3 linked regions of the Homo sapiens genome follow. The protein of the gene in region 1 purifies or fractionates together with the protein of each later gene. This does not show direct contact. Each region holds a gene or a part of one and is shown on either strand. Other genes may lie near its edges. The genes, in order: ECE1, NRCAM and MRC2.

Region 1 (3,649 bases):
AAGAAGGAATGGAAGTGGAGAGGAGAGGAGGGCCTAGATCCTAAGGGGCACAGAAAGCCAGGTTAAGAGCCTGGACTTCCTCTTGAGGACTGGAGTGACATGATTAGATTTACCCTTTGGGAAGGGCAGGGTGGAGGGAGCAAGGCTTGCCAGGAAGAGGGGAAGCTGTCAGGGAAGATGAGGAGACTCAGACTCTGACCTGCAACGGCCCCACCAACAGCCTGAGGGGTGCCCCTGGTGCCGGGTCAGAGCCCTGAGGGAGTCCCACCCTGGCACTCGGGGATCTGAAGTGGGTCAGTTGAGGGAAGGGTACTGAGAAGCCACGTGGCCATGGTTAGGTATTTACTGGGCAGGAAATGACTGGGAATTGCTGCACCAGAGATGGAGGAACACAAGCACTTTCTGTGGAAAAAAAAAAACTGGGTTCCAAAACTGAGAAAAGGGGCCGGGCACGGCGGCTCATGCCTGTAGTCCCAACAGTTTAAAAGGCTGAAGTGGGAGGATCACCTGAGGTCAGGAGTTCAAGACCAGCCTGGCCAACATAGAGAAACCCCATCTCTACTAAAAAACACAAAAATTAGCCAGGAGTGGTGACAGGCGCCTGTAATCCCAGCTACTCGGGAGGCTGAGGCAGGAGAATCGCTTGAACCCGGGAGGCGGAGGTTGCAGTGAGCTGAGATTGCGCCACTGCACTCCAGCCTGGGCGACAGAGCAAGACTCCGTCTCGGAAAACAAAACAAAACAAAACAAAACAAAACAAAACTGAGCAAAGGATCTTGGGGCTTAGAGACACTTCCGTGGAGGCCCAGGAGGCTCAGACACTGAAGCAGCTGGGTCAGGCAGTGGGAGGGATGCCGCCCGCTCAAATCCCTCAAGAATCTCTTCTGAAAAAGTGAGCAATGAAAGTTTCAGACCATGAATTAAAACTTCAGGCTGTGAGGGCCTGGTGCAGAGAGAGACAGCCTGGTATGATGCTAACATGTACACTGTACTCAAATGTTTATAAAGTGCTTTTTCAGAGTAATCAGTTATCTCACACACTTTACCTTGGTCTCTGGTACTCAGAGGGGTCCCAAGGACTTGAAGCAGGGACTGCCTTGCCTAGGGACACTGACGTATGTGTCCTGCTGCCCCTAATTTGTTTCATCCTTCCTCCTTTAGGCTTCTCATGTCCCCATTATCATGGCTCAGCTCACAGGGCACAAGGAGGCCGTGAGACAGTGTTTTGTTTTGTTTTGTTTTGTTTTGTTTGAGATGGAGTCTCCCTCTGTTACCCAGGCTGGAGTGCAATGGCACGATCTCGGCTCACTGCAACCTCTGCCTCCCGGGTTCAAGCGATTCTCCTGCCTCAGTCTCCTGAGTAGCTGAGATTACAGGCATGTGCTACCACGCCCGGCTAATTTTTGTATTTTTAGTAGAGACAGGGTTTCACCATGTTGGTCAGGCTGATCTCGAACTCCTAACATCGTGATCCACCCGCCTCAGCCTCCCAAAGTGCTGGACTGCACCTGGATGAGACCTTGGTTTAAGAGGTACCCATCAGCCAGGCATGGTGGCTCATGCCTATAATCTCAACACTTTGGGAGGCTGAGGCAGGAGGATGGCTTGAGCCCAGGAGTTCAAGACCAGCCTGGGCAACACAGTCAGACCCCATCTCTTAAAAAAAATTAAATTAAATTAGCTAGGCATGGTGGCATGCACCTGTAGTCCCAGCTACTTGGGAGGCTGAGGTGGGAGGATTGCTTGAGCCCGGAAGGTCGAGGCTGCAGTAAGCCATGATTGTGCCCCTGCACTCCAGCCTGGGCAACAGAGCAAGACCCTATCTCAAAAAAGTAAAAAAGAGGCCAGGCGCAGTGGCTCATGACTGTAATCCCAGCACCTTGGGAGGGTGAGGTGGGCGGATCACCTGAGGTTGGGAGTTTGAGACCAGCCTGGCCAACATGGTGAAACCCTGTCTCTACTAAAAATATAAAAATTAGCCAGGCATGGTGGCTCATGCCTGTAATCCCAGCTACTGGGGAGGCTGAGGTGAGAGAATCACTTGAAACTGGGAGCTGGAGGCTGCAATGAGCAGAGATCACGCCACTGCACTCCAGCCTGGGTGACAGAGTGAGACGCTGTCTTGAAAAAAAAAAAAAAAAGAAAGAAAAGAAAAGAAAAGAGGTACCCCTGTGCCTGGTGCTGGCTCCAGGGAGCCAAAGGATGCAGCCACTAGGCTTGGGATGCAGGAAAACCTCACCTTAAATGTACAGGGAAATGTCATGGTGTGGGCGACAAGGAGACAGCTAAGAGCAAGGAGCAAAGCCATCTGCGGAGAGAAGGGAGAGAAGAAAGGAACAGAAGGGGAAGATGAAAGAAACAGAGGGATAGGAAAGGGAAAAAAGAACAATGGCAGCAAATAAATACTTGAGTGCTAAGGGCCTGGGATCATATTAATTCTATTTTGATAGTGCAATTCTATCTTCACAACATTATTTTTTTTTTTTTTTTTTTTTTGAGACGGAGTCTTGCTTTCTCACCCAGGCTGGAGTGCAGTGCCGCCATCTCGGCTCATTGCAACCTTGGCCTCCCGGGTTCAAGAGATTCTCCTGCCTCAGCCTCCCAAGTAGCTGGGACTACAGGCACATGCCACCACACCTGGCTAATTTTTTGTATTTTTAGTAGAGATGGGGTTTCACCGTGTTAGCCAGGATGGTCTCAATCAATCTCCTGACCTCGTGATCCACCCGCCTTGGCCTCCCAAAATGCTGGAATTATAGGCGTGAGCCACAGCGCCCGGCCCATAACATTCCTTTTTTTGAATTTTTTTTAAATTTTTTTTTTTTGAGACAGAGTCTCACTGTGTCGCCCAGGCTGGAGTGCAGTGGAGAGGTCTCTGTTCACTGCAACCTCTGTCTCCCGAGTTCAAGCAATTCTCCTGCCTCAGCGTCCCGAGTAGCTGGGATTACAGGTGTCCGCCACCACGCCGGGCTAATTTTTGTATTTTTAGTAGAGACAGGGTTTCACCATGTTGGCCAGGCTGGTCTCAAACTCCCGACCTCAGGTGATCTGCCCGCCTCAGCTTCCCAAAGTGCTGGGATTACAGGCGTGAACCACTGCACCCAGCCTATCTTCACAACATTCCTAAGAGTAGGTATTAGCGTTAGCTCCAGAAGAAACCCAGGAAGTCGGGGCATGAAGGCAAGGAGAGAGGAGAGAGAACAGTGAGGCAACCCACGTCTCCAGGACTGGCAGCCGCAGACCTACCACAGGAAGTGGAGCTGACCCTCACTGTTTGATGCAAAGTGCTGAATCTAAACAGATGGTGTTCACTGCAAAATTAAATTAAAATTAAGCCAGAATTGAATTAAAAATTCATAGTTCCAGGCAAGAATGGCAAATGGAGTTTGAAAATGGAGTTTTTAACCTTTGTCTTGTTCTTTGCTTGACTTGTACTATCGGCTACGGGCCTCATGGTTTCTGGATAAGCCTTGTCTCTAAAGGCAGAACGAATCCAGATGCCTCACCCTGGGGCAGGAGAAGTCACCTAGAGGTACTAGGCCAGGATCAGGAGGCCTCTCCAGGGCAGGGTGGCCAATTCCTGGGTGCAATGGAAAGGGCTGGGCCGTGAGTCAGGGCACCGATCTGCTTCCAATGGCCGCTGGCCTCG
Region 2 (3,649 bases), on another chromosome or scaffold:
TTCAAAATATAATGTGTTTTTATTCTCATTGTGATAATTTCTGTAATGAAGGTTTAAAGGAGCTAAAGGAAGTGCTCTTCATGAAGATATTTATGTTTTACATGAAAATGGAACTTTGGAAATTCCTGTGGCCCAAAAGGACAGTACAGGAACTTATACGTGTGTTGCAAGGAATAAATTAGGGATGGCGAAGAATGAAGTTCACTTAGAAATCAAAGGTAAGGCAGAGGTAATGTGTTTAATTTTTAAATGACTTTGAACAAATTCTCCAGCTTTGCCAAATGGATAACGATGACTCTACATTTCAGATCCTACATGGATCGTTAAACAGCCCGAATATGCAGTTGTGCAAAGAGGGAGCATGGTGTCCTTTGAATGCAAAGTGAAACATGATCACACCTTATCCCTCACTGTCCTGTGGCTGAAGGACAACAGGGAACTGCCCAGTGATGAAAGGTATTTGAAGACGATTTCTTTACTTTCTCTTCATTCTTTCTTTAAGCTATTCTTGAACTAAAGGTCTACTATGTAGTCAATTATGGTGATGTTTTTAGTTTCTGAAGTCTGCTGTCTCCAAAATAGAGAGATAAGCATTTTCTCCCTACTGTAAAATATATGCACCCAAGAAGGTATCAGGTGATTGAAATAGGACCCTGAGAATGTTTGTCTATCTTTGCGTGCTGGTCTCTTGTGTAATTCAGGATGGGAAAAAACCCTCAGGCCTGGACAGCATCCATTGTTTTATACCTTGAACAGCGAAGTCTCAACAGATGTTTTCATTACCTTTCTACAAATAAGCAGAAATATGACCTCTTTAATCACCAAAGACTGCTCAAATCCTTGTCAGTATTTTAAGACACTCGTTTTTATTTGGATAGGGAGTTTTTCTTTTGATTTTACCTAAAGCCAGTGAAAGGGGAAGGAAAAACAAAAACAGGTAGAGCATTTAAAAGAGCCCAAGCATGCTGCAGATTTCATTAAGAATGGAAGAAAGGTCATGGCATTTTCCAGATGAGACCCTCAATTTGACATAGTAGTACAGAGTAGATATGTGTTAGTTTTAGCAAAGTGGCTATAGGCCTCACTCTCTATTAGAAGGAATGCTGTATTCTGGTCGAAATCATTTGTGTGGTTCACCTACAGCTGACCTAAAATTGTGGTGCCTAAATATTGCCCTGTTGCTTGTCAATGACCCTGGAAGAACTCTGTGGCCTTCTCTTTTATGTGCCTAGAGTCTCCATCTAATTTTATGCTTGAACTAGTCAATTTTATTTGTTGAGTTGATAAAGATGAAAAGGTGTGGTGGTCTCACACCTGTGGTCCCAGCTACCTGGGAGGCTGAGGTGGGAGAATTACCTGGGCCCAGAAGGTTGAGACTCCAGTGAGCCATGACTGTACCACTGCACTCCAGCCTGGGTGACAGAGTGAGACCCTGTCTTTAAGATTAAAAGGAAACATAAAGAAATGACCATCAGGTTAAGGTGGCTGAAGCTTTTACTTGGAAATTAACTGAGAAGACAGTTTATGACTTAGGCAGTTTCATTAAAATAATACACTAATTCTCTATACATTAATTTTTTGATCTACTGAGCAATTTTTCATGCCCACAAGTTCCCTCTAGAAAAGTCTTAGAGAGATTGTTCATCTAAATCTTCCTGTTTCTAGTGATAAAGCAAATTATTATTCTTTGCATTTAATTTCTCCTATGAGAGTTTATACATGTAAGAAAATGACATGATTTTCTGCAGTAAATAATAAAGTATTTAAAATATATACTTTGATAGAAATTGAACTGAATGAGTGGTTTTCCAATGTTTCTTGGCAGCAAAAGCCTTAGTAAAGCCCTTTAGTAAGGCTAATGCTGGAACTATTCTTCGCCTCCTTCCCCTGGGAACTTAAGGAAGCTCCTTCCTCTCCCTCTAGAGCAGTGGTCCCCAACCTTTTTGGCACCAGGGACTGGTTTCATGGAAGACAGTTTTTCCACGGACAGGGTGGGGGCACAATGGCTTCAGGATGATTCAAGCACATTACATTTACTGTGCACTTTATTTCTATTATTATTATGTTGTAATATGTATATACATATATATATTATTACATGTAATATATACAGTGACAGATCATCAGGCATTAGATTGTCATAGGAGAGCACAGTCTAGATCTAGATCTCTCACTTGCACAGTTCACAATAGGGTTCACCTTCCTGTGAGAATCTAATGCTGCCACTAATCTGACAGGAGGCGGAGCTCAGCTTCACTCGCCCCATTCCCCTGGGGCCTAAGGAAACTCCTACCACACCCTCTAGAGCAGCGGTCCCCTCTGCAGCCCAGTTCCTAACAGGACAGTACCCAGTTCTTGGCCCAGGGTTTGGGGACCCGTGCTCTAGAGGCCTGGTTGAAAAATACTGTGCCAGAGGACATATCCCTTCTAACCCAATATTCTAATTGATTCTCATTGTTTTTCAACTTTAATCATTCTTAAAGTGATATGTATTTTGCTCTAACTTTTGAAAGTGTTTACCATCTTTCTCCTTTATCAAATTTACAGTTTTTTTCCTGCCAGTGAAGCAATTATAGGGTACGGCTGCATGTCCATTTCAGCTGCTCTGAATGCATTCTATCCACAGGTTCACTGTTGACAAGGATCATCTAGTGGTAGCTGATGTCAGTGACGATGACAGCGGGACCTACACGTGTGTGGCCAACACCACTCTGGACAGCGTCTCCGCCAGCGCTGTGCTTAGCGTTGTTGGTAAGAACGAAAACAAAAATAGCACAACTGGCTTCCCTGCATTTGGTTGAAAAGAAAAAATAAGATAAAAATTATAAATATCAAATATTTGCTTGTTAATATGCATGGGTGAGTTCATACCCATGTTTTTCTTCTTTGAAAGATGCCTTGGAGGCAATAATTTCAGTATAAATAGACTGTGTAGCAGCACTGGGTGAAATGGTGGATATGCACATTAGTAACCTTTTTTGTAATAAAATAAGGAGAAATGATCTACTTGTATCTAAAATTGAAGGTTTTTTTTCCTAAATTGTTACTGCATGTTTATCAATGCTGTGTCTCACAGCTAAGCATAGGGCTTAATTTTATAACCTTGAATAATGTACAGTCTTTGTCATCTTGTGCTATCTTGTATCTTTCCATTACTAATTTTGATTAAAATCCTTTATATTAATGTCCTTTCTAGCTCCTACTCCAACTCCAGCTCCCGTTTACGGTAAACTAATATGAGTCTTCTTTCTCTGTTTTCTGTCAAACAATTTCACATTTGCAGAAAGTATTCATAACTTTCTTTTCTATGTCACATAATTGTGTTTCTTAAGGAAAAGGTCTCTGTCAGTTGTTATGTTGTGTCACCCATTTACTGACAATGAATCATTTCTTCATCATAACCACAGATTTTTCACCAAGTTCGTTGCCAGTTCTTTCTAAATAGTTCATGTGCTATTATAAAATCACTTCGTTTGATAAAAGTCCCTCTTTGATGCAATTTCCTTTTAAAGTAGCATAGTGCTTTTTCAAAAGCCATCATCCACATTTTACAGAATGAAAAAGCTATTTCTAATATCATTCTACAAATTAGGCTTTCATCTCAATTTATTAAAAGTTGTTTGGGAAAAATCTTGTTTTGGGATTCCAT
Region 3 (3,649 bases), on another chromosome or scaffold:
TGACCTCAACGCTGTATCGATGGGTCAATGTGAAGCCCAGATGGAGAGGCCCCAGGCCCTGGGGGCTGCCCCGGTCACAGCTGCAAGGGACAGGGGGCACGTTTGGGTTCCTGCCCCTCTCACTTCCCATCTCTTCCGTCCCCACTCCTGGGTTGTGCTGAAGTGAATCAGAACCCGAGATCCACGAGCAGCACTGGTTCTGGATCGGCCTGAACCGTCGGGATCCCAGAGGGGGTCAGAGTTGGCGCTGGAGCGACGGCGTAGGGGTGAGGGGGCCTGGGGTACTTGGGACTGCGAGGCCGGGAGCTTGGTGGGCGGGGCCTGTTTGGGGCGGGGCCTGGAGGTGGGCGGGTTTTCTTGAGGGCCGGGCCCCCAGTCGGAGCCGGCTTCAGGAAAGCAGGTCCGAGAGGGGTCACCCGGCCCCCGGTGAGAATTCGCAGCTCAGGCCAGGCCTCTTGTTCACCTGTTCCGGGCATGGGGGCGGCCTGCACCTTGCGCCTCACGTTCCTCTTCCCTCCACCCGCCTCCTCCAGTTCTCTTACCACAATTTCGACCGGAGCCGGCACGACGACGACGACATCCGAGGCTGTGCGGTGCTGGACCTGGCCTCCCTGCAGTGGGTGGCCATGCAGTGCGACACACAGCTGGACTGGATCTGCAAGATCCCCAGAGGTTGGCCGGAGTGGCGCTGGGGGACGCGGGATGGAGCGAAGGGTGGCGGGGCCAGGAATTCCAGGGAGGGTCTCCTTTCCTCACAACGTCTTTGTCCTTGTTCCCCTAGGTACGGACGTGCGGGAGCCCGACGACAGCCCTCAAGGTGAGCACCCCCCAGCCCATCCCGCTACCCATCGCGTGGGAGAGGGCGTCAACTCTGGGGTAAGTCCCGAGAGGCCTGAATGAAATGGAGGGGATGAGGAGTTCCGGTCGAGAGAAGGGGGACGGGGTTGGCTCGGACGGAGGCAGCCACAGCCCTGTTTGCTTCCGTGTGGGAGGCGAGGCAAGCCTGGGGCCTGGGGCCTGGCACGGTGCCTGCCTGGGTCCGGTGTGCCTGCAGGCTCGCCTGCTGCCGCCTGGCTCTGCCCCGGCCCTGCCGCGCCCGCCTCCGGGGCCTGGCGTGCAGCCTCTGCCTGGCCGCCGCTCCCACGCCCGCGCTGCTCCTGCAGGCCGACGGGAATGGCTGCGCTTCCAGGAGGCCGAGTACAAGTTCTTTGAGCACCACTCCACGTGGGCGCAGGCGCAGCGCATCTGCACGTGGTTCCAGGCCGAGCTGACCTCGGTGCACAGCCAGGCGGAGCTAGACTTCCTGAGCCACAACTTGCAGAAGGTGGGCATTGGATTGAGCAGGGGGCTGCAGGCTGGGGGAGGGCAGGCCCGGGATGAGGGCAGGGGGCTGCCTACCCACACCTGCCCGCCTGGCTTCTCCAGTTCTCCCGGGCCCAGGAGCAGCACTGGTGGATCGGCCTGCACACCTCTGAGAGCGATGGGCGCTTCAGGTAGGAACCCAGGCAGGCAGCAGATGTGGAAGGGGGCTGGCTGTCCACACACGGAGCACAGAGGCAGACTTGCATTTGAATCCAGCCCTGCCCCTTCCTTGCTGGCTGTGTGGCCTTGAGCAAGATACTTAACCTTTCTGGGCCTTGGTTTTCTCATCTGAAAATGGGAATATGAGGCCTGCCTGGTAAGATTTTTGTGAAGATTAGAAATAACATATGCGAAGTGCTTACGCAGCATCCAGCACATTAGTTACTAAATAATGGCAGCTCCTGTTACGTCTGGTGTCATTCATCATGACTAAGGCCCTCTCGGGGAAGTGGGCAGAACATATGATGATCCGGGGGCCTCTTTGTATTTGGTGCCTACTTACCATGTACTGGGGGGCTTGAGGCAGGAAGGACCAGGAGCACCTGGGACTCAGAATTTGAGCTTGTCTTTTTGCCCTTGGGCTTCCTGCCCTGGAGTCCTCAGGCTTCTTTTCTGGAGCAGCAAGTGTCCAGGGACAGCTGGGGCCTTATCTAGAGGCACCAGGTCCTTGGGTCTTTGACTGCCCTGAGCTCAGTAGCTCCACCCCTCAGCCTACAGCCACTAAACCCCAGAACCTGGGCCCTTCCCTGCCCCCATTCCTGCGGCCTTCATTGCTGCATCCGGTGGAGGCCCAGCTGGGGGCCGGTGCTGGAGTTACCTCTGCTCCATGCCATTGCAGATGGACAGATGGTTCCATTATAAACTTCATCTCCTGGGCACCAGGCAAACCTCGGCCTGTCGGCAAGGACAAGAAGTGCGTGTACATGACAGCCAGCCGAGGTGAGGGCAAGGTGGGGGCAGAGTGCGCAGTCAGCTGTGCAAAGGGTTAATGCTGGGCGAGCCTGGGCAGAAGTCATCAGTCTGTTCTCATTCTCTTTGTTCCCACAACCCAATAAAGGCTAGACTCAGCGAGGGGTGGACCTGTCTCCATGGTCCAGAAGACTTGAATTCGGAGCTGGACACAGGCCCTGAGCCTCTGCCCAGACTCCTCTCAGGGCATGAGGCTGAGTGTGCTGCCAGCCATGCCCTGCCCTGCTCTGCCCTGGGGGTGACTGCCCTCCCCTCCCCTTTCCGCAGAGGACTGGGGGGACCAGAGGTGCCTGACAGCCTTGCCCTACATCTGCAAGCGCAGCAACGTCACCAAAGAAACGCAGCCCCCAGACCTGCCAACTACAGCCCTGGGGGGCTGCCCCTCTGACTGGATCCAGTTCCTCAACAAGGTAGGAGGTGGCAATGGGGCACCCAAGGGAGTCAGGGGAGAGGACGTGAACAGGGAAAGGCTGAGCCTCAGGAGTCCTGGCCTTTTGGCAGCACCAAACTCATGGCCTCTTGCCTGTACCCACCAACTTCTCTTTCACCTGGCTCCAGTACCAGGGCCAGACTCCTTGGAAAATGACTCACTGTAGTAGCACCTTCCAATCCTCCGGGAAGCAAGGTTGTCCAAATAATTTGGTGAGTGTTCTAGATCAGTGATTGCCAAAGATTTTTTTTTTTTTTTTTTGAGAAGGAGTTTCACTCTTGTCACCCAGGCTGGAGTGCAGTGGCGCGATCTCGGCTCACTGCAACCTCTGCTTCCTGGGTTCAACCAATTCTCTTGCCTCAGCCTCCCGAGTAGCTGGGATTACAGGCACCTGCCACCACCCCTGGCTAATTTTTGTATTTTTAGTAGAGATGGGGTTTCACCATGTTGGCCAGGCTAGTCTCGAACCCCTGAACTCAGGTGATCACCTGCCTTGGCCTCCCAAAGTGCTGGGATTACAGATGTGAGCCACCGCGCCCGGCCTGATTGCCGGCCTGATTATCAAAGATTTTGATAATGAACTCCTATTAGTAAAACAAAATATTGAGCTTACATGACCAAACTATGTGTGTGTACATTTAACTTATATATGTATATGTGTGTGTAAATAAAACCTACTTCCATACTAATATGACTAATATTATATATAGTAAAATATGTATAAGAACAAAAGAGTATAAAACATTAGCTAAAGATTTTTAAATACTTTTAAGTTTAAAACATTTTTTTGGCTGCGCGTGGTGGGTCATGCCTGTAATCCCAGCCCTTTGGGAGGCTGAGGCGGGTGAATCACCTGAGATTAGGAGTTCGAGACCAGCCTGACCAACA

What was found.
Region 2: the proteins of ECE1 (region 1) and NRCAM fractionate together in Homo sapiens (co-fractionation; one large-scale study listed by BioGRID). This does not show direct contact.
Region 3: the proteins of ECE1 (region 1) and MRC2 fractionate together in Homo sapiens (co-fractionation; one large-scale study listed by BioGRID). This does not show direct contact.

The regions. Positions count from the first base shown.
Region 1 is NC_000001.11:21,280,464-21,284,112, forward strand, and holds part of ECE1 (endothelin-converting enzyme 1), read right to left. Parts: intron 1-3,649. UniProt on the Homo sapiens protein: Converts big endothelin-1 to endothelin-1.
Region 2 is NC_000007.14:108,190,831-108,194,479, reverse strand, and holds part of NRCAM (neuronal cell adhesion molecule isoform A precursor), read left to right. Parts: intron 1-51; coding exon 52-218; intron 219-308; coding exon 309-456; intron 457-2,626; coding exon 2,627-2,751; intron 2,752-3,196; coding exon 3,197-3,226; intron 3,227-3,649. UniProt on the Homo sapiens protein: Cell adhesion protein that is required for normal responses to cell-cell contacts in brain and in the peripheral nervous system. Plays a role in neurite outgrowth in response to contactin binding.
Region 3 is NC_000017.11:62,679,637-62,683,285, forward strand, and holds part of MRC2 (C-type mannose receptor 2 precursor), read left to right. Parts: intron 1-163; coding exon 164-266; intron 267-533; coding exon 534-672; intron 673-781; coding exon 782-817; intron 818-1,163; coding exon 1,164-1,324; intron 1,325-1,425; coding exon 1,426-1,493; intron 1,494-2,200; coding exon 2,201-2,301; intron 2,302-2,598; coding exon 2,599-2,741; intron 2,742-3,649. UniProt on the Homo sapiens protein: May play a role as endocytotic lectin receptor displaying calcium-dependent lectin activity. Internalizes glycosylated ligands from the extracellular space for release in an endosomal compartment via clathrin-mediated endocytosis.